Linked DNA regions of Homo sapiens. The protein of the gene in region 2 interacts with the protein of the main gene of each other region in a pairwise test. Each region holds a gene or a part of one and is shown on either strand. Other genes may lie near its edges. The genes, in order: ASCL4, PLD1, SPIRE1 and LIAT1.

Evidence for each region.
Region 1: the proteins of PLD1 (region 2) and ASCL4 interact in binary tests that used the Homo sapiens proteins (3 or more experiments, as listed by UniProt).
Region 3: the proteins of PLD1 (region 2) and SPIRE1 interact in binary tests that used the Homo sapiens proteins (3 or more experiments, as listed by UniProt).
Region 4: the proteins of PLD1 (region 2) and LIAT1 interact in binary tests that used the Homo sapiens proteins (3 or more experiments, as listed by UniProt).

What each region holds. Positions count from the first base shown.
Region 1 is NC_000012.12:107,770,312-107,777,315, forward strand, and holds ASCL4 (achaete-scute homolog 4), read left to right. Parts: upstream 1-4,392; 5' UTR 4,393-4,907; coding exon 4,908-5,426; 3' UTR 5,427-6,333; downstream 6,334-7,004. UniProt on the Homo sapiens protein: Could be a transcriptional regulator involved in skin development.
Region 2 is NC_000003.12:171,807,277-171,815,203, reverse strand, and holds the start of PLD1 (phospholipase D1), read left to right. Parts: upstream 1-4,720; 5' UTR 4,721-4,805; intron 4,806-7,927. UniProt on the Homo sapiens protein: Function as phospholipase selective for phosphatidylcholine. Implicated as a critical step in numerous cellular pathways, including signal transduction, membrane trafficking, and the regulation of mitosis.
Region 3 is NC_000018.10:12,459,010-12,466,285, reverse strand, and holds part of SPIRE1 (protein spire homolog 1), read left to right. Parts: intron 1-1,327; coding exon 1,328-1,418; intron 1,419-2,792; coding exon 2,793-2,935; intron 2,936-6,357; coding exon of another isoform or gene 6,358-6,531; intron 6,532-7,276.
Region 4 is NC_000017.11:405,795-413,549, forward strand, and holds the start of LIAT1 (protein LIAT1), read left to right. Parts: upstream 1-4,530; 5' UTR 4,531-4,548; coding exon 4,549-4,852; intron 4,853-7,334; exon of another isoform or gene 7,335-7,353; coding exon 7,354-7,755. UniProt on the Homo sapiens protein: Participates in nucleolar liquid-liquid phase separation (LLPS) through its N-terminal intrinsically disordered region (IDR). May be involved in ATE1-mediated N-terminal arginylation.

The DNA.
Region 1 (7,004 bases), on a different chromosome or scaffold from region 2:
CTCGATCTCCAGGGCTCAATCAATCCACCCCCCTTAGCCTCCTGAGTTGTTGCGACCTCAGATGCATGCCATCATGCCTGACTATTTTTTGTATTTTTTTGTATTGATGGGGTCTCCCCATGTTGCTCAGGCTGGTCTTAAACTCCTGGGCTCAAGTGATCTGCCTGTATAAGCTTCCCAAAGTGTTGGAATTACAGGTATGAGCCACTGCACCTGGCCCAATTTCTTTCTATTTAACACAGCCTCAGTTAGAATCTCAAGTGGTAATTTCTTCCTCATGGATATTAAAAGTGCACGTTGTGTTCTTTTGTCTTCTTTTCCAAATTTGGGAAATCCTTGCCCAAAAGTTCTTCCAGATGAATTTTAGAGTCAGCCATTCATTCTCCAAGCCTTGAGTTTGGTGCCTCTTCATAATTCACACCAAGGTGTTATATAGACAAGAGGAGGCCTTGTAAAACTTGCGGTAGGAGAAGGTAGCCTTAAACAGGGGAGAAAAGACAAAAGCTAGAAGGAAAGGATTAAAATATACCTGCCCATCTGCCCCCTTTCATGAGCAGACCCAAATAGGACTACACAAACCCAGCCCAGTTACTCTTGGCAGGTTAGCATATGTGTTACGTGATCTAGCCAGCCTTAGGACAGCTTTAGGTTGGAGAGAATGTTTATCTGGGTCAAAACTGACTGGAGAGTAATCAGGAGTCAAAACTTCTTCTTTTGATCTCTTATGTAAAGAAGGTAACCCCCACCCCATACCCTGCACATCATGTGAGTAAAACAGTCCTATTCCTACTGGAAAAGCCACTTATTTTCAATGCTTTTGTTCTTTAGGAAAGGCTCTGTCAGCATTCTTTGTGACCATGCAGTTAGGTCATTATATTACTTGGATCCTATAAAAAGACCACTGTAGGATCAGGATTTGACCAGTTTTTTTTTTTTTTTTTTTTTGACGGAGTTTTGCTCTTGTCGCCCAGGCTGGAGTGCAATGGCATGATCTCAGCTCACCACAACCTCCGCCTCCTGGGTTCAAGTGATTCTCCTCCTGCCTCAGCCTCCCAAGTAGCTGGGATTACAGGCATGTACCACCACGCCCAGCTAATTTTGTATTTTTAGTAGAAACGGGGTTTCTCCATGTTGGTCAGGCTGGTCTTGAACTCCTGACCTCAGGTGATCCTCCTGCCTTGGCCTCCCAAAGTACTAGGATTACAGGCATGAGCCACCGCGCCCGGCCTTGACCAATTTTGATTGTGGTATTAGCAGTGAGAGAGAGAGAGAGAGAGAGAAAGTCTTGTAGATACTTCGTCCTCAGAGACAGAATTTACAAGGAGCCAGAAAACCTGGTCTAAGAGTTCTAATTTCTAATGGTAAATCTGTTGGTTTGGGCCAGATCAGGGGGTGTCATTTGAACTTTCTACACATTTTATCTTATTAAGTTTCACTGGGTTATAAAAATAAGAAAGTAATAGTGTTGGTATTAACAAGTTAAACAGTAGAAAGATTTATAAAGAAAAATGAACATCCCCCCTTCCTCCCCAATGCCACCCTTTCTTTTTAGGCAACCAATGCAAAAAACCATTTAGTATGTGTCTTTCTATTTCATTCTCCATGCTCACAGAAACACATATAAAGGACATACACATCATGTAGAATTGTTTTTATGTTCCTGCTGCATATGTTACTCTGCAATTTGCTTTTTTCACTTAAGACATTGTGGATATGTCTGCAAGTTCTTACGTACAGATTTTACTCATTATTTTTAATAATAGCATAATATTCTAAGATTTTTAACTCTTTTCCTATTGATGGACATTCAGGCTGTTCAGGCTGTTCCCTTTTTCTTCTTCTTCTTTATCTATTTATTTATTTTTTGAGACAGAGTCTCGCTCTGTCGCCCAGGCTATCTCAGCTCACTTCAACCTCTGCCTGCCAGGTTGAAGCAATTCTCCTGCCTCAGCCTCCCAAGTAGCTGGGACTACAGGCATGTGCCACCATGCCCAGCTAATTTTTTTGATTTTTAGTAGAGATGGGGTTTCATCATGCTGGTCAGGCAGGTCTTGAACTCCTGGCCTCATGATCCTCCCACCTCGGCTTCCCAAAGTGCTGAGATTACAGGCGTGAGCTACTGTGCCCAGCCTCGCCTTTTTTTTTTTTTTTTTGAGACTGGGTCTTGCTCTGTCACCCAGGCTGGAGTGCAGTGGCGTGATCTTGGCTCAGTACAACCTCCGCCTCCAGGATTCAAGTGATTCTCCTGTCTCAGCCTCCCAAGTAGCTGGGATTACAGGCACCTGCTACAACGCCTGACTAATTTTTTGTATTTTTAGTAGAGACAGGGTTTCGCCACGTTGGCTAGGCTGGTCTCGAACTCCTGACCTCAAGTGATCCACCCACTTTGGCCTCCCAAAGTGCTGGGATTACAGGCATAAGCCACCTTGCCTGGAGTCTTCGTTTTTTTAAATTGCTACAAATGTTGCAATAAAGATTATTGTACACATAAATAGGTATTGCTACATTTATTTTGGTAGGACAAAACGGCACAGATATCTGAATCAAAGGATGTGATGTGCACTATTAATTTTAACAGTTTGTTTAGCTGGGATGTGGAGGCACAAGCCTGTAGTCCTAGCTACTCAGGAGGCTGAGATAGGAGGATCCCTTGAGCCTGGGAGGCGGAGGTTGCAGTGAGCCGAGATCGCATCACTGCACCCCAGCCTGGGTGACAGTGAGACCTGTCTCAAAATAATAATAATAATAATAATAATAATAATAATAATAATTTTAATAGTTTCTTGAAGCAATTTATGCTCCCACCCTTTCCTCAAATCCTTGCCTCCCCTGAATCTTAGCAATCTTTTAAACTTTTGCCAATCTGAGAAGGAGAAATGGCATCTCAACTGTTCTTCCTTTTGCTCTCTTCCAATCTAGTCCTCAATCTGCAGACACAGTTATCTTTTTTGAAACACAAATCTTCAAATGTCACCTCCCTGCTTAAAATATTTCATTATCTTCCTGTCACTCTTAAAAGTTAAAATCTTTGACATGGCCAAAAAGCACCTTGTGGTATAACAGCCTACCTGCCTGAGTGGTGGACTTTTCTCCTAATAGAAAGGGCTTTCTCAATTCTACTGAGAAATTGTGATGATATATTAGGCTATTTGCCAGTACAAACCTCATCAGGAGCTACAACTTTTAATTTTTCTTTCTTCTTTTTAAAAGATGGGGGTCTTGCTATGTTGGCCAGGTTGGTCTTGAACTCTTGGCCTCAAGCAATCCACCCGCCTTGGCCTCCCAAAGTGCTGGGAATACAACCTTGAGCCACTGCACCCAGCCAAGCTACACCTTTAAAAATGTGACTAACTTATACCCGAAAGGAATAATTATTTCTATTTTATTTGCCTTGTTTTTTGAGTTGCTTCAGGCGGATCATTTAGAACAAACAGGGAAGAACAGGACTTGCCAAACTAAAAAGAAAAACATGTTAGGGCAGCACCTTGTCTGCTGAGGAATAGGCAAAAGCTCTCATCATAAATGTAGGGGGTTTTTGCTTCTCTTGTTTTTAAGTAGGACTTTTAAAGTAGAAGACACCTTTAATGTACTGGTTTGCAGAAGAGGAAATCTGATTTTCAGTGTGATAACATATTCTTTGACGTTAACCAGTACAGTTGGATTTTTAATGACACTTTAATCTTCAAAGGTTTACCAACACGGATGGATTAATTATTCATTTTGGAGGGGTTGTGTCTTAAAAAGACAAGTCTTCAAAGACATCATCCTTTCTCCTTGGAACTTGGAGTCTCCACCTTTCAAATGTTGCTTTCCTGCCCCCAAGAGAGAAAATAAATGACATTTTTTAAAGAAGAAGAATCCAATGGAAAAACACTCTTTGCGCTATGGAAAGATGATGTCCTTATATCCTGGGTGAGATTAGAAGAGGAGGCTGGGAAGCAGTATTTAAGCTGTGTTTACAGTAAGCACTGTGAGAAATAACCGGCTAAGCGCGTTTGTTATTGTTCAGTCTTTTGATGTGCTTTTAAAAAGTCGCATCTCCATAAAACACCCTCAACAACCATAAAACAACATATGTTGGAACATAATATGCAGACCCTTATATTCTTTGCTACAGTCTGTATTTTTCCTATACCCTTCAAACATGCCTCATTGAGTTTTTAAAAGATTCGGTTTGGAAGAAGAAAAACCTCAAGCCTCGCCCCGGGTCTTCCTTGACTTGACACATTTTATAACCGCAAGAGAGCAGTTTTTCCTTTGATGAGGCTAAGACCCCAGAAATGAAAGAGCAAGTTTAAGTTTGCAAACACTCTAAAAGCTCCTTCCATTAGACCTGGTCGCGGGAAACCACAAAGGACAGTCAAGTGATTTTCAAGGAGAAAGCCTCTGGTCCACTTTCCCTCCGCCGCCAGATCTGCAGGTTCCTGGGAGGAGCTCTTCTCAAATCCTGAAGATTGCTAGGCTCTTGGCGAACGACTCATCTCTTGAAGACCTAGAGTGGTGGATTACAGGCATTGAAAAGCTTTTGGTGGCTTTGGAAGATGACTCTGGTGTGAGCTCACCTTTCCAGGCTGGGGGACCAGGCAGAGGAACCCCCTTTGTTATCTTCTGAAAGAAGATCAGTGGGGAAGACGGGGTTTGAAGTGTGGATTAGGAGATCCTACGTCTTTGCCTACCACCTCTGCCTAAATCATAAAAAGATCGAGGAGTGCAATGAACTTCAGGAATCATGCACCGTTTCCCTGAAGCCTGTCCAGGAACCTAACTTCTGGACCCAGAAACTTCTGCAAAGACAGACCCACTGAGCCAGGCAGTCTGCACCAGCACCTCTGCTTCTAAGATTCTGTTTCGTCTTCTTCTATTGAGAGATTGACCTCTTGAGTGATTTGTGTGCTTTCCGGCAAATGATGGAGACGCGTAAACCGGCGGAACGGCTGGCCTTGCCATACTCGCTGCGCACCGCGCCCCTGGGCGTTCCGGGGACCCTGCCCGGACTCCCGCGGAGGGACCCCCTCAGGGTCGCCCTGCGTCTGGACGCCGCGTGCTGGGAGTGGGCGCGCAGCGGCTGCGCACGGGGATGGCAGTACTTGCCCGTGCCGCTGGACAGCGCCTTCGAGCCCGCCTTCCTCCGCAAGCGCAACGAGCGCGAGCGGCAGCGGGTGCGCTGCGTGAACGAGGGCTATGCGCGCCTCCGAGACCACCTGCCCCGGGAGCTGGCAGACAAGCGCCTCAGCAAAGTGGAGACGCTCCGCGCTGCCATCGACTACATCAAGCACCTGCAGGAGCTGCTGGAGCGCCAGGCCTGGGGGCTCGAGGGCGCGGCCGGCGCCGTCCCCCAGCGCAGGGCGGAATGCAACAGCGACGGGGAGTCCAAGGCCTCTTCGGCGCCTTCGCCCAGCAGCGAGCCCGAGGAGGGGGGCAGCTAGCGAGCGCCCGAACTGGCCAGGACCCCCGCGCCCGCCGCACAGCGCGCAGCCGGGCGCTCAACCTAAGGTCCTCTTCGAAGGTGGTTTGCATTCTTAATCTGGCATCTTCTCCAGGCCTAAATCTTAAGAAAAAGAAATGGGTGCTGGGGTTTGGGGGATGGGGGAGTTGTTTTGACATTTGGGAATTTCTCCCCTGCCCTTATTGGTTACGTGCCTGCAACTTATAGGTGCTTATTAAGGAGACTCTTTTCCTATACTTCTAAAATGCAAACTGTTTCAGATTCTGAGCACCTCATTGTAAATACGATTATTCTAAAAACTCAAAGGGCGAGAACAACTGGAATTTCCCACCTTCCGTGGTGTGGGTAAATGGTATACATAAACATTAAACCTTAACCAAAGAAGAACTTTACCGCCACCAAAACAGAAACAACCCCAAACAGCCAAAAACAGTCCTTAAAAATGAGAGGAACATTTTCTTGCATTCCTTCCTTCGGGAATTGTATTCAAAATGTAATGGAAAGTAATTGTTGACCTCCTGCTTTGGGTGAAGGAGACTGTAAGCTGGTACTTGAGAACGAATTTGCCAGCATGTGCTGTTGTTGACTGTGTGAATGATGGTGCCAGGGAATCCGTGGCTTGGTACACACTGTTTCATCCAGTGGCCACGTGGAAGCTTTGTAGCATTGAGCAGATAGTAAAATATCTTAGAATTAATGATCTCTTTGGAAGAGAGCCCAGATTTGTATGAAAACTTGTTTTTCCTCTCAATTGTTTTGTCCACTGTTTTCTTCATTTTCCTTTTCTCTGCATACCCCCCGCCCCCCAACGTGTAGCTCTCCATCTAAGTTTTGGATAAACTGAAGTGGCACTGTGACTTTAAAAATAAAAAAGAAATCTACTTGGAAGTCCTTTTTGCGGGTTGAGCCAGATGGGGGAAAGATATGGGACAAGACGGATGGATTGAAGTTGGTACATTCTCAAATATTTTTATCACCATTAGGGCTTCCAGGTACAGTATATGGAAATGATGTAGTGACTTTGGCCATGTTAAAAGCCTTTTTAAAATATTGAATTTGGGTCATTTTTTTTCTAAGAAACAATTTTGAGTTCAGTAGATAAGTTAAATGCCTGCTGATGTATGAAGATCAACTTCCCTAAGATTGTTTTCTAATATGCCGAATTATCCTTTCCATGGAGGCAGCTTTGGTTTGTGGGGGAAGAAGGAGGGGAAATGGAAATGGACAAAGAGAACTAACAGTGGAAGTGCATCCTCCAGGTAGATTTCACTTAGATTTTATTACCCCCTTTTACAGTTGTAGCAACTAAGGCAGGCTATATCTTCAGTGGACATCTTTTATGTGCTAGGAATTTTGTTGTGGCTTTTTACATTTTGTCCTATTTAATTGTCATAAATTTGTGGGGTGGGTATGACAAATATTTTGTGATTAAAAAAAATATGAAGCTCAAAGAGGTTACATACCTTGACCAGTTTAGTGTTGCTAGGATTCCTTGAGCTGAGATCAAGTCCCGAGCCTGAACCCAAAGCCAAGGATTTCTTTCTCCCTTACCATGCTG
Region 2 (7,927 bases):
TCTTTAATATAATTGCAGCAACCAATTGGCATGTAATTGTGTTATTCCAAACAAATATTCATTTTTAAATGGCTTTTTGCATGTTTGCTTATTTACTAATCATGCTAGTTTGCATAAATGTGCAAATCCATGAAAACAAATAAAATTATAAAAGTTATGTAAACATTATCCCATTACTGGATATATACCCAAAGGATTATAAATCATGCTACTATAAAGACACAAGCACACGTATGTTTATTGCGGCACTATTCACAATAGCAAAGACTTGGAACCAACCCAAATGTCCATCAATGGTAAACTGGATTAAGAAAATGTGGCACATATACATCATGGAATACTATGCAGCCATAAAAAAGGATGAGTTCATGTCCTTTGTAGTGACATGGATGAAGCTGGAAACCATCATTCTGAGCAAACTATCGCAAGGATAGAAAACCAAACACCGCATGTTCTCACTCATAGGTGGGAACTGAACAATGAGAACACTTGGACCCAGGGCAGGGAATATCACACACCGAAGCTTGTCGTGGGGTGGGGGGCTGGGGGAGGGATAGCATTAGGAGAAATACCTTATGTAAATGATGAGTTAATGGGTGCAGCACACCAACACGGCACATGTATGCATATGTAACAAAACTGCATGTTGTGCACATGTACCCTAGAACTTAAAGTATAAAAAAAAAGGTTATGTAAACATTGAAAATACAGAAATATTTCAAAAAAGTCATTAGATAGGGGGAGTGGGATCCATTTGGGCTTGTTGGACATGAAAAAGCTTCACAGGGACTGGCTATGGGTGACTGAGAAGACTTATCTTTGGTATTGCAGGGGGAGCTGTAGGCGTCAGTGTGGGACCTTTATAGTCACATGCTAGGCAGCTCACAAGTCGACCGTTGCTGGAAAAAATGATGAAACATACAAATGGGCCACAGGAAGCTGAAATGAGGATACAGAAACACAATGCTCTGCACATCTTGGCAATATCTGCTGTGTTGCTGTGTTCCTCATTCTCTCTTGAGATTTTTGGTGTTAACCACTGTCATTTTTTTACAAAAAATTTGAGCCTCACTAATGACACTGTTCTGATCTTTCAGTGAGTCACTGTTATGGTGGTTGAAGTGATTTATGTCATCAGGTAACTGGGGATACAACATCTTGCTCTATACTCCATGTCTCTAGAGAAACATGTGCATTGGTTAATTAACATTAGCAATTAGATGTTTGCGAATGAATGAATGAAATGAGTAGTTGCTAATCCACAGACTGTCAGGTGGACTGAAGGGCACAGAAGTCATACAGATTATGTCAGTGAGGATTATTGGGGACAAATAATGAATGCAGACTTGCTCTCTGAAGGAAAAGGGCACCGGGGCCTCACAGAATCAAGACAAAGTGGAAGAACAGCAGGAACTAAGGAAGCAACAAAAAGATTTAAAAAAAAGACCCACAAAACCTAGGAAGTAAAAGTTTCCTAGGTTTTACTGGTCAGGGTAAAGCTGCTGATGGGCCGCTTCTGTCTCTGTTCAATAAGCTCAACCTCAAAGATCACCGGCTCCCTCATCCCCTGAGATTCAGTCCACCTGGCCTATAGGGTAAATGGAATGGTGGTGGGAATATGGAAGAAGGATCTGACCTTCACTTTTGAGGTTACTGCTTGAAATTGCTGTCTTGCCAGGCCTATGCCTATTTGGGGAGAGGTAATTTTCTATAAGAAAATGGAACTGTCAGAAAAGATGATAGATGTTGGTATCCCAAAATGACTAGATGATCTGGATGGCAGTGCTTGTATCAAATGTACCACAAGGGAAAATCTGGGGGAGCACCATTTGTATGTCACTTTGATAAAATAGTTCTGTTTCTGTTGAAAGCATTATTGCAAATTAACAAGAAACTAATTTACCATAGAAAAAGAACAGGTAATGGACATGAATAGATCATTTTCAGTAAATGGTACAAATAATAACATGAAAAAATCGTGTTCAGCATTACTGATTATAAAAAAGTTGATTAAAACAAGATATGATTTTGATTCGTGACATTTTCAGGTTATAAGCAAGGCAATATTTAATACTGGAGGGTATTTTTGCAGCATCACACAGCACCTTAAAAATGTTTCTAAATGCTGATCCAGTATTTCTACTTTTAGGAATCTATCCTAAGGATGTAGAGATCTTGACAAAGATGATGCAACGTAGTGTTCATTCTAGCATGATTTGTAAACTGCAATAAAGTCTGAAAATATCCTAAAACATTTGATAAATGATTGTAATATTCTTCAACCACAGAAATGATATCTTAAAGAAAGTTTAATAACAGTAAAAAATAGTCAATTTATAAATACTTAGTGAGATAAGGAAGATTCTAAACTCTGTAAAGCATGGTGTTAATTTTATAACAAACCTCTGGGCATAGAAAAAATAAGGAAATATACTAAATGCTAATAGAGAGTGTGTGTGTGGGAGTTATAGGTGATTTTAATTAAAAATGTTTTTCTGTGGTCTCTAAAACATAGATGTAAAATTTTTTTTCTAAAATATAGATGTTAAAATTATAAAAATGAACATATATGTTTTTATTCTCAGAAGAAAATAGAACAATTAAAAGGATTTCAAATACCACTTTGACAAAAATGTCAAGTGCATATTGAGATGAATGTATAGCATGATTACTTAGTCACTGTTTCTTGACATCTTTGAAGATATGAAAGAGTTGGAAAGAAAAATCACAAAATCTCTCAGGAAAATAAAATAATTACATACAAAATCATACTACTTCTAAAATTCATGTTTGGGAGTCCATAAGCTTCAGTTCATCTCTAAACAACATATGGCATTTCCTATTTTATTCCTCTATCCCAGGGAGGCAGAAATTCAGTTATTGTAAGGGCACTTAGATAATTTTCTTTCTTTCTTTCTTTCTTTTTTTTTTTTGAGACAGAGTCTTGCTGTGTCACCAGGCTGGAATGCAGTGGTGCAATCTCAACTCACAGCAACCTCCTCCTCCCAGGTTCAAATAATCCTCCTGCCTCAGCCTCCCGAATAGCTTCGATTACAGGAACCTGCCTCCACCTCCGGCTAATTTTTGTATTTTTAGTAGAGCCGGGGTTTCGCCATGTGGCCCAGACTGGTCTTGAGCTCCTGACCTCAGGTAATCAACGCGCTTCGGCCTCCCAAAGTGTTGGGATTACAGGTGTGAGCCACTGCGCTTGGCCTTGATAATTTTATTTCTAATTAGATTTAGTAGAAAGACCTATTGTTGGAGGCAAGTGCCAAATGTTTTCATAGTGACACTTAAGAATTTGGGATGCAATTTTATAGACTGCTGCTTCTCAACCAAAAGCATTATAATTTCTAAAGACAAGCTTGTAAGAATGCAGTTACGTGTGTGCACAAGACTTATCAGACCATCTGTGACTAATAAAGCTTGAGAAAGAGGGGAGGAGAGAGGGTATTCTGCCTTCCAGTAACATGCTTGTCTGAAACTTACTAAACTCCTCTTAGGCAATACTCTGCTCAGAGAGTCATGTGTTTAATTGTAAAAATCTGTCAGTATCATAGGATTCAAAAGACATCAATCATTTATGTCAACAAGGAAAGAGTGAGGGCTGTGTGACTCTTCTATCATTAGGAAAAGATGTGCTCAAGAGACAAAAATGTGGTCTAAGGAGGGCTGAGCAACTGTAGGTTACAGGAAAACTGAGTTCCAGACTATAATTTGGCCCCCCTCCCCTAATTTGGACTGGTATATTATATTTTTCATTTCATGCAATGCCATGTGTGCAGTAAGACATTATGTAACTTGGTCAGTCGCAGTTGTGTAATATCCACTAAATGCTTTAAAGTGGCTGACGTTATTAGCAGTTTGGTGCATGGGGAGGCCATTGCTTCCCCTGGCTTTGGCGGGATGCAATATCGTGTAATGAGGTTGGAACTGGCCTATATTCAAAATTACATTCCCAAAGGGCTGCTATTCAAGCCACATGACAACTGGTTCTCTTTTTCTTAAGACTTTATTCTAAGTGGACTGAAAACAGCAAAATTGCCGTGTTTGAACGGTTCCATAGGTGGAATGGGTCTTTTCCCTGTTTTGCTCCCAATTTATTATTTTATGCTAAGATTTCTGAATTATAACCAGTTTTAGAGACATCGGGACACAAATTCCCGTCCCCCTCCATCTAAGCTGTGTGACCTCGGGCTGGTTCTGAGCCTTCATTTCCTTACCTGTAAATTGGCGATAACACTTCCCTAAGGAGGTGCAAGAAGGCTTATAAAGACTCCAGCAAAGCTCCAGTCTCTTAATTATGTCACCTCAGGCAAGTTATTTAGCCGTTTGATTTGCTGATTCCTTACTTATAAGTTGGACCAGTTGTGGCTACTATCCGCAGTAGTCGAAGAATAGATATCATAGGCAAAGCTCCGGGAAAGGTGGCTGGTCCTTGGCGGCTCGAGAGGACCTGATAATGGTCCTAATAGCGAGCATTCCCTAGGGTGATGCGGTCGAGTTATGAAACTTTGGGAAAAGAGAACAAGGAACGCGGGCGATCAGAGGCCCAGTCGCGAGACCTGCCCCGCTGGGGCCTCCAGCCGGCACCGCGACGCCCCGGGACCTGGCACCGCCTCGCTCCACCCCTGCGAATCCGGGGCGAATCCGGGCGGAGAGTTCCTGCCGGCCGCGCAGCGCAGAGCCCCCTCCGGCCCGCCCTCTCTCCCTCCCTCCCGCTGAGCTCCAGCTGTGCCAGAGGCACCCGAGCCCTGAGAGTCCGCCGCCAACGCGCAGGTGCTAGCGGCCCCTTCGCCCTGCAGGTAGGAGCCGCGCCGAGACCCGGATCACCGGGCGCCCGTGGGAGCCGGGTTTCCACTGCCCTCGCCCTCCGTCCCTCCTCCGCCCAACCTGGGCAGCTGGCCGCTCCCCGCCCAACTTGGACGGGATTTCAGCGAGTGAGTCGGCGGCGGACTCCCTAGCGATCCCCAAGGGCCTCCCTCGCACGCCTTCGGGTGGAATTCCTGCAGGGTGAAAGCTGACAACTCTGGCACGCACTTTTGCCGCGCGGGCGGCTGCCTGGAGCGCAGAGCCGCGCAGGCTCAGGCTGAAGCCCAGGCGTCCTCTGCAGGATGCACCGCCTCGCCGCCACAGGGCTTCGGGTGCAGTGTGTGTGGTGTCCCCAGGTCATCCGGGCGCCCTTGGTTCGGGTGCGCGGTGGCATGACTGGGCTGGTGGGGGCGATGGGACCGGCATCCCGTACCAACCAGGAAGTGCCGCGTCCCAAGGCTTCGAGCCCAGCCCGCAGAGCACGGTCCTGGGGGTGTGATCACAGCTGCTGACCGCGGCTCCCGCCGTGTGATGTGACCACTCGGAGGTGGGGCGAGGGGGCCGGGGGCCAGCAGCAGGGAGTGTGTAAAAGGTCTTCTTCCTCACAATACGATTGAAGGTGTTTGGGACGTAGGGCTCAGATCCAGGAGTGCCGTCCTCCAAGCCTTCCATAGGATTTTGTGACGCCCTTGAGAACCGCCCTTGTAGACTCAGTCCTGAACTACCGCCACGCCTGTATTTGCTCCTCCTCATCTCGGATTATTGCTTTCTTTACTTCCTCTGTGAAGCACTAAATACTAGTAGCTTTTTAAGAACAGACCACAACAGTTTCTTCGTTTGACCATTACTAAGTCTGCCTCCAAAATGGGGAGTTCCGTTAACTTTATCAGCCAGCCCTGCCAATTTTAGTTAAGATAAGCCTTCGTGGGCCTCCAAAGGCCTCTGAGAGACTAGGTACCCAGAGACCTCTGAGGTATGTTAAATGGTTTAGTTCGTGGTGGTGCAATGAAAACTTAAAGAAGGAAAGGAATCTGCAATTTGAACTGTTAACAGACCCCACATTTACACACTGCCTATTTGAATAAGAATCTCTTTCAGTATTAAATGTTTTGTGACACACAAATGAATTTGTACACAGTCTTTTAGCTTGAATTTGTAGACAGCCTTTAAATGTTGTTTGGGGATCTTTGGACTAATTGTATAAGCGCTCAGTCTGGCTTCTCAAGAACCAGTACAGTTAACAATCCATATAAAAAGTTGGAGTGCTGCCTGGGCGCGGTGACTCACGCCTGTAATCCCAGCACTTTGGGAGGCTGAGGCGGGCAGATCACCTGAGGTCAGGAGTTTGAGACCAGCCTGGCCAACATGGTGAAACCCCGCCTCTACTAAAAATACAAAAATTAGCCAGGCGTGGTGGCACACGCCTGTAATCCCAGCCACTCGGGAGGCTGAGGCAGGAGAATCGCTTGAACCCGGGAGGCGGAGGTTGCAGTGAGCCGAGATGGAGCCATTGCACGCCAGCCTGGGCGACAGGGCAAGAATCTGTCTCAAAAAAAAAAAAAAAAAAAAAAAAAAATTGAATGCTAAGGCTTTGAGGAAAAAGTGTCTTTACAATGTTTGTCCCTGATGACAGAATAATTATGAACTATAGTAAGCGCTGTACAATGCTCATTTAGGTTTGTAGACTTACTTATAACCAGGTAGTGGGGAACCCGGCTTCTTGGAAGTTGTATGTTTACTTAGTGTTTCTTAATTAAAATTACAAATTTTATTTACCTTTAACTCTTATAGGTAACTTTTATTTTTGTTACAAAGGAAAAGTAGGACTGTCATTATTATTATTATTATTATTTTTTGAGACGGAGTCTCGCTCTGTCGCCCAGGCTGGAGTGCAGTGGCGCGATCTCGGCTCACTGCAAGCTCCACCTCCCGGGTTCACGCCATTCTCCTGCCTCAGCCTCCTGAGTAGCTGGGAAAACAGGCGCCTGCTGCCACGCCCGGTTGATTTTTTGTATTTTTAGTAGAGACGGGGTTTCACCGTGTTAGCCAGGATGGTCTCGATTTCCTGACCTCGTGATCCGCCCGCCTCGGCCTCCCAAAGTGCTGGGATTACAGGCGTGAGCCACTGCACCCGACCCTATTTTTTTTTTTTAATAATTTGAAATTTTATTTTAGATACAGGGGGTACATGTGCAGGTTTGTTACATGGACATACAGCATGCAGCTGAGGTTGGGGGTACAACTGGTCCCGTCACCCAGGTGGTGAGCATAGTACCTGATAATTTTTTAACTTTTGCTCTCCTTCCTCCCTCCCACGTCTAGTAGTTCCCAGTGTCTATTGTTGCCGTCTCTATATCCATAAGTACCCAATGTTTACCTTCCACTTATTAGTGAAAACATGCAATGTTTGATTTTCTGTTCCTGCATTAATTTGCTTAGGATAATGACCTCCATCCGCATCCATGTTTCTACAAAGGACACGATTGTGTTACTTTTTATGGCTGCATGGTATTCTATGATGCATATGGACCACATTTTCTCTTATCCGGTCCATAGTTGATGGGCATCTAGGCTGACTCCATGTCTTTGCTATTGTGACTAGTGCTGTGGTGAACATATGAATTTGTGTGTGTTTTTGGTAGAACAACTTATTTTCTTTTGGATATATACCCAGTAATGGGGCTGCTGGGTTGAATGGTAGTTCCGTTTTGAGTTCTTTGAGAAATCTGCAACTGCTTTCCACAGTGACTGAACTAATTTACGTTCCAACCGACAGTGTATAAATGTTCTCTTACAGGATGTTTTTTTAAAAAATTTTTTTTCTCTTATAATTTCACTTTTGTTGTGGTAAAATATGTACAACATAAAATTTACCATTGTAGCCATTTTTAAGTGTACATGTAGTGGCATTAAATACATTCACATCGTTGTGCTACCGTCACCACCATCCATCCACAAGACTCTTCATCTTTCTTACAGGGTTTTAATAACATTTTAATGATAATGGTTGTGTTGCAGGCTTTAGTTTTATCACTAAGCAAGGTTTGAGTTCCTTCTCGTAGCTTTAGAGAAATGCACCTTTTAAACTTTTTTTTTTGAGACAGGGTCTCACTCT
Region 3 (7,276 bases), on a different chromosome or scaffold from region 2:
TATATATCTATAGATACTAAGTAGAAATTACAAGTAAATGTTTATCTCGCATAGTATTTAGTAAATATTTCAGGAATAAATATTATACTTTATTTTTGTTTAGTCTAAAACAAGTTAGGATCTCTTCTCACTGGTAATAAGAATTTTAATTTTATTTGGCACGATGTAGACATTTTTCTTTTTCTTTTTCTTTTTTTTTTCTGAGACGGAGTATCACTCTGTCACCCAGGCTGGAGTGCAGTGATGCGATCTCAGCTCACTACAACCGCTGCCTCCCCGGGTCAAGCAATTCTCCTGCCTCTGCCTCCCAAGTAGCTGGGACTACAGGCGCGTGCCACCACGCCTGGCTCATTTTTATATTTTTAGTAGAGGTGAGGTTTCACCATGCTGGCCAGGCTGATCTCAAACTCCTGACCTCGTGATCTGCCCGTCTTGGCCTCCCAAAGTGCTGGGATTATAGGTGCGAGCCACCGTACCTGGCCCACAATGTAGACATTTTTCTAGACTCATATGACATTTCATGAAATGTTTATTTTTTCATCCATTCATTCAACAAACACTCATTACTTACTAAGTGATGGGTTTGGTACTGGACATACATCAGTGAGCAAGACAGACCCAGCATCTGCTCCCATGAGGCTGACAATGTATTACTTGTATAAATGTATTAAATATTTCCCTAATAATATTAACCACTGTTTTATTGTGTGCCAGGTAATGTGTTAAGCATTTTGAATGCATTACCTCATTTCATCTTTCCAATAACCCTATGGAAAAAGTGATATTAAATACCCTCTTTCACAATGATGAAACTAAGATAAGAAACATGCTCAGGCCAGGTGCAGCGGCTCACACCTGTTACCCCAGCACTTTGGGAGGATCGCTTGAGCTCAAGGCCAGCTAGGCAACATAGGAAGACCCTGTCTCTACAAAAAATTTAAAAATTAGCTGGGTGTGGAAGTGCACACCTGTGATCCTGGCTACTGGAGTCTGAGGTGGGAGGATCACTTGGGCCCAGAAGGTAGACGCTGCAGTGGGCCCAGATCACACCACTGCACTGCTACCAGAGCAACAGAGTGAGACCCTGTCTCCAAAAAACAGAAAGAAGCATGCTCAGTTTCACATCACTCTCATCAGGGCAGAGCCAAGGCACAAACCCAGACCTGTCTTGTTTGAAACCCCTTCTAGTTTGTCTTTTGCTTGCCTTGAACCTTTGACATACTTTGGTGCCTCATGTTAAAATAACTGTTTAATAATAAAATGTTATTACGTAGCACTAGAGCACAAATGTCTAAGAAGTCGATTTCTCCACCTGTACTTTGCTCAGGAAGAAACGCTGCACAAGTCGACCAGCAGCAGCAGCGTGTCTCCCTCTTTCCCTGAAGAGCCAGTCCTGGAGGCCGTGTCCACAAGGAAGAGTGAGTAGTTGTGGTGCTAAGAGCTGTAGTCGGATGTCTTACTACAAAACACACTTGACCTAGAGCAGAGATCCCAGAGCGCCCTGTGATCATCTAGGGTAGAAAGAACTAACTCAGGCATTTCACTGATCGGGAGATGAAATACTTATTTTCCAAGAGTGGCATCATACCAGGCCTCGGGGTCTTATGACAGAGCAGGCACATGTGTGTTTACGAACAATAGTCATGGGAAATATTATAAATCAGTTGTGTGTGTAGCGTTCTGTTTTGTTTTGTTTTAGATAGATTACCTCCTTGGCTAAATTTAAACCAGAAGCCCAACACAACCATATTTATTATCATTCCACCTACCACCCACACACACCCATCTCCAAAAACCTGTGTAGATAGTGAAAACACCTTTATAACTCTTTAGGAGATAGATTCTGAACACAGATATCTAAAGTTAAGGGATTTCTAAAGGCTTTTAATAATCCTTTTCATTTATAAGAACATTATGAAGTATTAAAAATTATATATTGGCTTGATTTCTCATACACAAAAATTCTTTAAGTAGTTTTATTATTTACACAGATTATATCAAAAACAGTAGGTACTGACTATCCACAATTGGATATTATAGGGACCCAATTGAATCACATAATGGATTTCTGTATCTTTTCTTGACTGTGGAAATTATATCTGTGTTTTCCTTTAGTGGTTTCTCATGGTGGGACAGTCTAAATAGATGGATCATATGTAACTTTGTGTTGACTCTCACTTTCCACACCCACTACATTGAAGCAGCTCTACTCTGTAGATAGAGTAGGAGGAAGCACTAAATAAAACTCTGGCACCATAATTTATTTCTAATGTTCTCCTTTTGTTTTCAAAATGGGAATCCAGAACCGTTCAGACACTAAAGCAGTCTCCTTTTAAACAGTCTTAAAATATTACTAGGCAGAGAAGGACAATGGTACAATATTAACATCAAAGCTGAAGCTTACTTTTTGCAGTTTAAATACAGTTTAATTTAAACCTAAGGACAAAATGTCTTGGTAAACATGTAGAAAGAAGGATTTTCCTTATTTTATCTTTAAAAAGGAGAATGTAAAAAGAGGGTACATTGAGAATTTTGGTATGATTTGGGAATCTTTCTGGCTACACCTAACATTTTTCCTTTTTTCTTGCTATTTCTGTAGCAAGTTTACTTTGCAAAGATTCTTCTGTAACAGCCCTCAGAGTCTACTCCTAAGGATTACCATTACCATCTTAAAATATCTCTCCAATGAAATAAATAATTCATCTTTGAATTACAGTGTTTGTCACAAATGTCAAAAGGTTTTGTGTTAGAAAATTCACAGTAAGTTTTATTTCATTTGGTTCAATCTTTAGAGCCTCCAAAATTCCTGCCCATATCATCAACACCCCAGCCAGAGAGACGGCAGCCACCCCAGAGACGACATTCCATTGAAAAGGAAACGCCTACTAACGTGAGGCAGTTCCTGCCGCCTTCCAGGCAGAGTTCCCGCTCTCTTGTAAGTACAGGAAAGACTTTGTAGTAACTTAGGGACCAGCTAGAAGACATAGAATCATTAGCTTTCTTATGAAGATGATAAGGAGAAAAAAACTTGCAAAAGTTAGAATGAATTTTGAATAACTTACTTAATAGCTAAAGAAAACAAACAGCCAGGCGTGGTGGCTCGTGCCTATAATCCTAACACTTTGGGAGGCCAAGGTGGGAGGATTACTTGACTCCAGGAGTTCAAGACCAGCCTGAGCAACATTGTGAGATCCCGTCTCTGCAAAAAAAAATAATAATAATTAGCCAGGTGTGGTAGTGCACACCTGTGGCCCCAGCTGCTTAAGAGGATGAGGTGTGAGAGGATCATTTGTGCCCAGGAGGTTAAGGCTGCAGTGAGCTATGACTACACCATTGCACTCTAGCCTGGGCAGCAGAGTGACACCTTCTCCAAACTCTATCCATAACCTAAACGAAACTTGACCAGTGTTTGTTCATTTTGAGCTCTTTTTTTTTTTCAAGAAAATTTATCAGTGGTTGAAAGTATGGATTATTATTAAAGAAATGCTTTCTTTCTTTCAAAGGCTATTAATCCATTTAAAAATTGTTAAAAATTGACCAAAAAAACTCTTAGCAAAATGACTACAGTAGGTGATCTTATTGAGGCAGAAGTACAAGCGAGGGAGAATTTTGATCCATTAATAACTACTGTACATTGTTTTCTAGTATGTTTTGTGATATTTGGGGCCAGTGGTGTTATTTTGGTTGAACTGGTTTATAGTTTTTGCTGTTTTCCAGAGACTTGCAGGTTCTTATAGTGGGTGCTCATTTCTCAGGACAGTGGGCAGCACACAAGGGTTTGCCAGGAGGAATTAGTAGATCTCCCAGCCAACAGAGGTCTCCAAAGACTCTTTTGTAGCGCCACTTGGCTTCTGAAATATTTGTAGGCAAGATGCACAGCTGTAATTAATATTCTACCCACAGTCAAATATCTAATGTGTTTTCAAATATTCATGAATAAAAAATAATAGAATATATTGAATACTAAGTCCATTTTTTAAGGCTGTGATGAATTATTAGAGTTTCAATTAAAGTAATAACAGATGGGAGATAATGCGATTATTGTGAAGACAGGGATTTTGAACAGAGCTTAGAATGTTAATATTTGGTCATTCATCTCTATGCCAAAACAGTGCAATTAAAGAACTAATGATTTTATGGCGATTCCTGATAGGATTCTTCTAGCTCCAGAATAATCACCAAAACACAGCTATTCGATTAAATATAGCCTTGTCAGTGACTTACCAACAAGAAAACAGAACTCTGACCAGACAGATTCAAACGTAAAAATCTAAAAATTTGTTTTCATGTGAATAAGTTATTGCTTTTACCAAAATATACAGCTATTATCACAACTTTAAAATATGTAAGAGGGTCCAGGCACAGTGGCTCACACCTGTAATCCCAGCACTTTGGGAGGCCAAAGGAGGAGAATCGCCTGAGGCCAGAAGTTTGAGACCAGCCTGGGCAACTTAAGAAACCCCTGTCTGTACAAAATTTTTAATTAAAAACTTAGTTAGATGTGGTGGCGCATGCCCGTAATCCCAGCTACTCAGGATGCTGCAGAGGGAAGATCCCTTGAGCCTAGGAGTTTGATGCCACAGTGAACTAAGAATGTGCCACTCCACCCCAGCGTAGATGACACAGCAAGACCCTGTCTCTAAAAATATATATACACACATATGTGTATGTGTGTGTATATGTGTGTGTATGTATGTATATACATATGTATGTACATACATATACACGCATGTATGTATATACATATGTACGTACATACCACACATATGTATGTACGTACATATGTACGTGCATACACACATATGTATGTACGTACATATGTACATACATACACACATGTATGTATATACATACATACACACACACACACATACATGTGTATAGGTAAGAGGGAACTTGTGGTTTTTTTCATAAGTCTAATCATTAGGGTATTCTCTTCTTCACTCAGCTTTTCCTAGAAGCCAGTCTATCATTCAGCTTGTAACTGGCCTTTATGTGATCATACAATGTCATTATTGAGGTTAGACTTAAAGTTTAAAATTAGCAATGTAAAGGAACTATCAGCTTAGCTACAAGGTAGTTTCAGCTTATAATAGAAGTTATGCTGAGACCTTCAGCTGACCCCAAGGGCCCATGACTGTGTCTGTTTCCTGTTAAAGCAGAGCTCTTAGTGTTGCGAGGTCAGGCCGTGCACTGTTTTTTTGTGGAGCAGGAAGGAGAGCAAGATAAACTAACTTGCAATCACTGAGGAAGGTCTCAGTGAGCAGGCAGTGGGAGAGCCGCTCTGCTCAGCACTGAACAGTGGTCAGATTGAGGGCAGGGAGCAGAGTCCACGCAGGCCTCCAAGCACCAGCAGAGACGAAATGATCTTCCTTGCTAATAGCTTATCTTGGGAAATCCATAAAATCATACCTTGTAGTAATGCCCTATAGCTTGGTAAGTATTGTTTTTATAAGTGTAATTAATTTTTAAATGTAGCTGCATTTTAGAAAACAAAGAATCATTTTGTATTTGTAACTCCTCAACTGAAAATGGCAGGAATGTTTTTATTGTTGATAATTTTTTTTTTTTTTGAGATGGAGTTCCGCTCTTGTTGCGCAGGCTGGAGTGCAATGGCTCAATCTCGATTCACCACAACCTCCGCCTCCCGGATTGAAGCGATTCTCCTGCCTCAGCCTCCCAAGTAGTTGGGATTATAGGCATGTGCCACCACACCCGGCTAATTTTGTATACTTAGGAGAGACGGGGTTTCTCCATGTTGGTCAGGCTGGTCTCGAACTCCTGACCTCAGGTGATCTGCCCGCCTCGGCCTCCCAAAGTGCTGAGATTACAGGCGTGAGCCACTGTGCCCGGCTGATAATTTTTATTTTTGTTGTATCTCCCTCCCTTTTCTTGTGATGTTTAAAATGTCATTTTTTTTCATCATTTGGTCAAATAACCGAGGGCAAATGCCCATCCAGTCTAAAGGCACCTCGTGTTGGCAGTACCTTCCTGGGGCAGGTGCAAGTGGCTGCCTGGCACATGTCCCCATGCTTTCTCAGGCACAGTAACGAGTTGCCTCTATCCTTCATCACAACAAGCCCCACTGAGGAAACTCAGAGTGTTTGCAGGACCCTAAATTAGAAAAATCCTTGCTGTGTGAACGCTGAGATTCTCCAGGAAGGACTTCGTGGTTTCATCACTGATTTATACGTGTGGATGCAGATGTTCGCACGGACTGTACCAGCCTCATGGTGTTTTTTGTTTTGTTTTCCTTTTGTGATCTGTAATCACTATGTGTAGGTCACTTGTGTTCAGCATTATTTTCTCCTTTTCTTTTCCCCCTGCCATTTTCTTTTTCCCTTATCTGTTGTTCAGGTTCCTAGGATAACCAGTGTATGGCCAAGGACGCCTTTTCGACCACTTTTTTCTACCATACAAACAGCTTCTCTGCTCAGCTCTCATCCTTTTGAAGCAGCCATGTTTGGGGTAGCAGGGGCTATGTATTATCTGTGTGAGAGAGCTTTTACCAGCAGGTGGAAATCCTCAAAGGTTGGCCTCTTTCTGCTGGGTCTGGGATTATTTCATTCTCTGTATCTCTGACGGTGACACCTCAACTGTTGCGTTCTCTGAGAATTAACCGCTTAGATAGCACTTTGCTTCCAATCATTGATTCCACCCTTGTGCAGGATGCACCGATCATGCCGTGGTCTCAGTTGAGGGAAATAACTGGGAAAGGACAACAAACTCAAAATGCAGCATCTGATGAAGGGGACCTGTGGGTGTTTGTCTCCTCGGGTGACCTAATTGTATAGCAGAGTCAGTGCTGCCACCTTTCTCCATGTGCAGCAGGCACTCTGAGCCCGTGGGGTGCATTCCTCCTAGGGCCTCCCCCCACCATCAGAAGAGTATTTGCTCACTCATTCCGTGAGCAGAGCATCCTCCTGCCAGGCCAGGTAGCCATGGTGGACTCCGCCCACCCACAGACACCTGCACAACCAGGGCATGGGCTCAGGAAACCTGTGTGCTCCCATCACCTGTCATGAAGCTGTGTTATGACAACCAGGGTGTGTACGTCACTTCTCTGCAAAGAGAAATTTCAAGTTTCCTTTTTAATGATGTGGCTATTTTAAATAATTCTGCATTATATTACTGTTTTTTGAGGTTTTTTTACACAGAATAATATATCATTATTTGAACCTTCACAATTCTACGTGAAATAAAAAGCTCTACGACCATATTGAAGCCTCTTCTGCCACCACGTAGCAGGTGCTCAGAGCAGCCTTTGTGCTACAGT
Region 4 (7,755 bases), on a different chromosome or scaffold from region 2:
CTGTCTCAAAAAAAGAAAAGAAAAGAAAAGAAAATCAGAAATGACCAGCTGTGGTGACTCACGCCTGTAATCCCAGCACTTTGGGAGGCTGAGGCAGGTGGATCACTTGAGGTCAGGAGTTTGAGACCAGCCTGGCCAAAATGGTGAAGCCCCATCTCTACTAAAAATACAAAAAAAAAAAAAATTAGCCAGGTATGGTGGCACGCACCTGTAGTGCCAGCTACTCAGGAGGCTGAGGCAGAAGAACCACTTGAACCTGGGAAGTGGAGGTTGCAGTGAGCCGAGATCGTACCACTGCACTCCAGCCTGGGCCACAGAGTGAAACTCCATCCCAAAAAAATTTTTAAAAATCGTAATGAAAAGTACCAAGTCAAGTCAATGGGAAAAGGAATGTCTTTTCAATGGAAGTTCCTGGAAAAACTGGAAATCGATTTGGGAAAAAATAAATGTGACTCCTATATGTGACTTTATTCACAAAATCAATTTGAGGTAGGCCAGGTGCGGTGGCTCACACCTATAATCCCAGCACTCTGGGAGGCCGAGGCGGGCGGATCACTTGAGGTCAGGAGTTCAAGCCCAGCCTGGCCAACGTGGTAAAACCCTGCCTCTACTAAAAATACAAAATTAGCCTGGCATGTTTGTGCATGCCTGTAATCCCAGCTACTTGGGGGCTGAGGCAGGAGAATTGCTTAAATCCGGGAGGCAGAGGTTGCAGTGAGCTGAGATCACGCCACTGCACTCCAGCCTGGGCGACAAGAGCGAAACTCCATCTCAAAAAATAATAATAAATTTGAAGTAGATCATGAACCTAACCTAAAACCAGAACTATAAAGCTTCTAGAAGATAGCATAGCACACTGTCTTTGCAATATGGGGCAGGCAAAGCATCCTTGGACACAATACAAAAAGAAAAAACTGATCAAATGAATTGAAAATTGAAAAAAATTATTTATCAGAATTTCAAATTTCTGCTTATCCAAAGACACCACATTCAGAAAATGGATAAGTTACAGACCTGGAAAAAAAATCTTTGCAGTCATAAAGCTGACAAAACACTTATATTCAAGTTGTGCAAAGACATCAACAACAAACAACAAATCAACAATAAACAACCACATTACAGAATGGCCAAAAGACTTCAAAAGACACTTAAAGATATACAAATGACAGGCCGGGCGCAGTGGCTCACACCTGTAAACTCAGCACTTTGGGAGGCCGAGGCGGGTGGATCACCTGAGGTCAGGAATTTGAGAGCAGCCTGGCCAATATGGTGAAACCCCGTCTCTACTAAAAATACAAAAATTAGCCAGGTGTGGTGGTGCATGCCTGTAATCCCAACTACTCAGGAGGCTGAGGGAGGAGAATTGCTTGAACCCAGAAGGCAGAGGCTGCATCGAGTGGAGATTGTGCCACTGCATGGAAGCCCAGACCACACAGCAAGACTCCATCTCAAAAAAAAAAAATATATATATATATATACATATATATATATATATACACAAATGACCAGAAAGCACTTTCAAGAGTTCTTGACTTCGTTAATCACCAAGGGAATTCAATTCAAAACCACAGAGAAATACAACTTCTTACCCACTAGAGTGGCTAAAATCAAAGGCTGATTTTTCAATGGGTAATGGGGACTACTAGAGGGAGGAGGGGCTGGAAGATGTGGACTGAGAAACTACTGTTGGGTGTTGTACTCACCACCTGGGTGACGGGATCACCCATACCCCAAACCTCAATGTACTCATGTACATTGTACTCATGAGTCATGTACCATCACTCAGTGTACTCATGTAACAAACTTGCACATGTACCCCCCGAATCTAAAATAAAAGTTGAAATTAAATAAAAGATAAAATACCATTCCATATCTTTTTAAAAAGACACATTTGGTTATCTACTGTTGCATAACACATCACTCCAAACCTTCGTAACTTAAATAACTACAACCATTGTATTTTCTCTCACAGCTTCTTTGGGTCAGGAATTCAGGAAAGGCTTGTCTGCTTGGGGCTGGCCTGGGGTCTCTCCTGCTGCTGCTGCAGGACGATAGCTGGATGGGAAAAGTGGGGGCTGGAGGAGCTGAGGCATCTTTCTCTCCATACATCTTAGAGGCTCTCCACGTGGACTAGGTGGGGATTTATCAAGGTGTGACAGCCTTGGGGTCCTCAGACTTCTCAATGGGAGGCTCAGGACTCTACAGCAAGCACGTCATGGGCTAAGAAGATGGATGGATGCTGCATTCCCTTTAGGACCTAGCCTGAGAAGTCACACAGAGGCACTTCTGCCACATACTATTGGTTACAAGCGAGTCAACAAACCCCTTAAATTGAAGGAGAGCGGAATGAGACTCTGCGTCTTGCCATGGGAATGGCAAGATTCTTGAAGAGTATGTGGGACAAGAGATATTACTGCAGCCAGTTTTATTTTATCATTTTATTTTATTTTGAGATGGAGTCTTGCTCTGTCACCCAGGCTGGAGCACAGCAGTTTTATTTTATTTTATCATTTTATTTTATTTTGAGATGGAGCCTTGCCCTGTCACCCAGGCTGGAGTGCAGTGATGCAATTTCAGCTCACTGCAACCTCTACCTCCTGGGTTCAAGTGATTCTCCTGCCTCAGCCTCTCAAATAGCTGGGATTACATGCACCCACCACCATGCCCAGCTAATTTTTGTATTTTTAGTAGAGACGGGGTTTCTCCATGTTGGCCAGGCTGGTCTCAAACTCCTGACCTCAAGTGATCCACCCACCTCGGCCTCCCAAAGTGCTGGGATTACAGGCGTGAGCCACCATGCCCAGCCTCTGCAGCCATTTTCAGATAATACAATCTGTGGAGGGTAAACCTAGAAAGAAAAGCAGGTGATGCATCATACCAGGCCTTGTAAGCCACACTTTGTTATTTTTTTTTTTAAGACACAGAGGCCGGGCGTGGTGGCTCAAGCCTGTAGTCCCAGCACTTTGGGAGGCCGAGGTAGGCGGATCACAAGGTCAGGTGTTCGAGACCAGCCTGGCCAATATGGTGACACCCCGTCTCTACTAAAAATACAAAAAATAAAAAATAAAAAATCAGCCAGGCGTGGTGGCACGCACCTGTAGTCCTAGCTACTAGGGAGGCTGAGGCAGAAGAATCACTTGAACCTGAGAGGCAGAGGTTGCAGTGAGTCACGTTCACGCCACTGCATTCCAGCCTGGGCAACAGAGGAAGGCTCTGTCTCCCAAAAAAAAAAAAAGAGAGAGAAAGTCTTGCTTTGTTACCCAGGCTGGACAGCAGTGGTGCGATCTCGGCTCACTGCAGGCTCAAGTTCCTCCACAAGTGCCCCTCAGCGCAGCTGGTTAATTTTTTGTAGAGATGGGGTCTCACTACGTTGCCCAGAATGGGCTCAAGCGATCCACCCACCTTGACCTCCCAAAGTGTTGGGACTACGGGTGTCAGCCCTGCACAGAGCCCCACAAGAGTTTAGATCTTGATGTAAATTGTGATGAGGAAGCAATGGAGGACTTTTTGGCTTTTTATGTTTTGTTTTTCATCACTGGAGACTTTTAGCAAGAGAGTGAACGGTTTGGTTGTTTTTAAAAGTTTGTTCTAGCAGCTGTGCGGAAAAAGAGTTCGTGGGGAAGGTTTGAAAGCAGAGACCATTCAGGAGAGGACCCAGAAGTCCCAGTGCCAGACACGGCAGTCGGCCCCAGCCTGGGTAAGGGACAAGGGAGAGGGTAGGGGACACGGAAGCCCACCAGGTTTCCAGCCAGTCCAGCGGTTTTGTTCACTAAAGTGGAAAACCATGAAGAAGTAAGTTTGTTTTGGACACATTGGCTTTGAGAGTCCAGGGTAGATGTACGAGGCTGAAACTCAGGCAATAAAAATTGAGGGGAGAATACACAGCATTTAAAAAGGTACAGGAGGCCGAGCACGGAGGCTCATGCCTGTGATCCCAGCGATCTAGGAGGCCGAGGCGGGAAGATCGATGGAGCCCAGGAGTTCGAGACCAGCCTGAAACCAAAAATCAAAACTCTTAGCCAGGCGTGGGGATGGGAGGCCAAGGCAGGAGGATCGAGGCACGGGACTGGACGAGATGAGTGTCAGCCCAGGGATTTAAAATCTCTCTGCCCACCCTCCCCTTCCTGCGGTCAACTGTCCAGATTCCAACAGACAAAAGCAAGCATGGGCGAACCACCGTGCGCCGCGGTCCCCGACAGAAGCACGCATGCGCACACCTCTGTGTGCGGAGGTTTCCGACAGACGCACGCATGCGCACACTTCTATGCGCGGAGGTCTCCGCAGACAGAAGCACGCATGCGCACATCGCTGTGCCGGTATCGCCAACAGATGGAAGCACGCATGCGCGCACCGCTGCGTACCTAGCACTCCGACAGATGTACGCATGCGCACAACGCTCTGTTCTCGAGATCCCCGACAGAAGCACACATGCGCACACCGCTGTGTGCCAAGGTCGCCAAAAGACGGAAGCACGCATGCGCACACCGCGGTCCGTGGGGCACCGGGCGGAAGCGTCCTGACTGCGCAGGCGCAGCAGGGGTGGTCGCCATGGAGACGCGTGGCCCTGGCCTGGCGGTCCGCGCTGAGAGTCGCCGATTAGTCGGCATCGGGCCTCGGGCGCCCCCGGGGCGGGTTGGGTTGCAGCCCAGCGGGCGGCTGGACCGCCGCGGTGGGGCGGGGACAATGGGGTACAAGGACAACGACGGCGAGGAGGAGGAGCGGGAGGGCGGCGCCGCGGGCCCGCGGGGGTCTAGACTGCCCCCCATCACAGGCGGCGCCTCCGAGCTGGCCAAACGGAAGGTGAAGAAGAAAAAAAGGAAGAAGAAGACCAAGGGGTCTGGCAAGGGGGACGGTAAGAGGAGCAGCTAGCCCGGCTGCGTCAGCTCCGGTTCCCTGGAGACTCTTTGGGGACCCACCCCCCATTTACCCTTCAGACCGGAAACAGAAGCTCAGTGGTCCCGGACCGAGGTCCTCCTGCTCCCCACACATGCCCGTCAGCAGCACGTTGATGCCCCAGCCCCACCCGTGGAGACCATCCACCAACTCTGCGGTCCCTTAGCCCCACACAGAGACCCCTACAGATATCCACCATTCCTAAGAGCCTTCCAGCCCCACACAAAGACACCCTCTCAACTTCCTAATCCCTCAGCCAAAACTGGCAGTCTTAAACGTCTGCGCCTTCCCCACAGAGGCCCTCCTCACAAGACACTTTCCCCACCCCAAACACATTGATGCCACATGAAAGGCCCTCACTCTCATGCACAGAGAAGGGCAGACTCCTGCCTCCCCTCCTCCCACCCTCTTGCGTTAAGGCTGCCTGCCTGTGGATGCGCGGTAGACACCCACACCCACAGACGTGTGTATTAAAGGTCCTCGCTGCATGGGCTCCCCCTCGCACCCACCAAGGGGCAGCCTTGGACTGCACAAACCCCATGACACCAGTCACTGTGACATCCTCCTATAATCCCTGACACCCTCAACCACTCCCCGCTTCATATCAGTGTAACACCCACAGTGAAACTAAAGGGCGGGGGACACCCTCAACCACTCCCCCCACCTTCTATCAATGTAACACCAACAGTGAAACTAAAGGGCGGGACGCAGTGGCTCACACCTGTAATCCGAGCACTTTGGGAGGCCGAGGTGGGAGGATCACTTGAACCCAGGACTTCCAGGCTGCAGTGAGCTATGATCGCACCATTGCACTCCAGCCTGGGCAACAAGCAAGACCCTGTCTCTCAAAAAAACAAACAAGAAAACTAAAGCACAGATCCCCCTCATGCACACACATTCCTAGTCTACACACACAGACTGTTAATACGTTATCCATTCGCGTGTGTAGTCATATGCAGGCAGGAATTGCAGTCTCTCTCAGGGACACCTTCACAAACACACATACCCTACCTGCCATAAACCCCAGTCCCTACATCTCACCAAGCTCTTCTTGTAGAACCCCTACATTTCTTGACAAGGGGACTGAGCACCCACTTTGAGGAGAGAGAGCACAGCAGTGACAGAGAATGCAGGTGCCCGTGAGTGCTGTGAGGCCACTGTCGCCCGTGTGGTCCACCTCAGTGGCTTTGGCTGTCTGGGAGAGGGCTCTAAGCTCCAGTTCTGGGGCCTGGCCCTCTGTGGCAGAGCTGGCACCAAGGCAAGCAGGAGGCAGAGTGGCAGCCTCGCCCATATGGACCGTGCAGTGTGGGAAGGGAGCAATGGGAAGATGATAAGTACTTCTCAGGCGTAATACAAAGGCAAGAAAATTCTGCAGTTCAGGTCAAGAAGCCCTGTGTGGCTGGGCACATGGCTCACGCCTGTAATCCCAGCACTTTGGGAATTCAAGACCAGCCTGGCCAACATGGTGAAACCCCGTCTCTACTGAAAATACAAAAATTAGCTGGGCATGGTGGCAGGCACCTAGAATTGCTTGAACCTGAGAGGCGGAGGTTGCAGTGAGCCAAGATTGTGCCACTGTGCTCCAGCCTGGGTGGCAGAGTGAGACTCAGTCTCAAAAAAAAAAAAAGCCCTGTGTGTATCTGCAAAAAGAAATTTGGCAGTTCATTGTCCTTTTGGCGTAGCTTTTCACTGTAGAAATTACAGTGACATGTGCCTCATACCATCAGCAGGGGGCACCAGATAGTTTCCAGGGCGTAGCAAGGGAGGGAAATGTCAAAAGATGATTTCTTTCTCTCTCCCCTAAAATAAAAGGACGAGCTGATGAAAGAACCACAATTTGTAGCATTTTATGTGCATGTTAAATAATTCTGAAGTGCTATTGATGTTAAAAAAAAAAATCAGTACAAGCCATACAGCAGAAGTATTTCTGGCTTGGCATAATACTGCTTTCAGTCAAATTTAGGAAGCTTTTCTGTTGTTTTCCGTTCCTTCCATCATAAAGTGTCTAGACTAGGGTAGAGTCACAGACTCCCAGAACTGGGAATGGCCGTGGTGAGCACATGGCGAGGATGGATGAGGGCAGCACGGCCCAGTGGAAAGAATGGGGCATTGGGGGCCCAGCCTGCACTCAGGTCCCAGCTCTGCCACTCGCTCATGACATTGGCAAGTTCCTGAACCTTTTGGAGCTTCGGTTTCCTCACCCGAAGAATAGGGCCGATCGCCTTTACCCAGACGGCCTGGCTCAGACTGTGTGCTCAATGAATGGTTCCTCCTGCCCTGAAATGATTTCAGCAAAATCACACAGGCAGGTGGGCACGAGGCTGGTGGGCTTGGCAGCCTGAGCCCTGGGTACGGAGGGGCCCCCATCCTCCTCTTCCATCTTGGGTGATTTTGGCACCATCCCCAGCAGGCCAAGGTCAGACATTGCCACAAACACTAACCTGCTCATCTACTCAGCAGATAAACATCAGAGTCAGAGCCTGAAGAGCCAGCCGCTTTCTTCCTCCTTTCATGACATCTTAAGTCCTTGCAAAGAGCGTGGCCCGAAACCAGAGCACAGACAGAGCAAAGTGGAAAAGAAGCACCTCCCTTCTGACTCCTCCACCGTCAGCCTCCCCGACTTTGCCGAAATAGAGAACCTTGCGAATCGGATCAACGAAAGTCTGCGTTGGGATGGAATTCTTGCTGACCCGGAGGCAGAGAAGGAAAGGATTCGCATCTATAAACTGAATCGGAGAAAACGGTACCGGTGCTTGGCCCTCAAGGGCTTCCACCCCGACCCCGAGGCCCTCAAGGGCTTCCACCCCGACCCCGACGCCCTCAAGGGCTTCCACCCCGACCCCGAGGCCCTCAAGGGCTTCC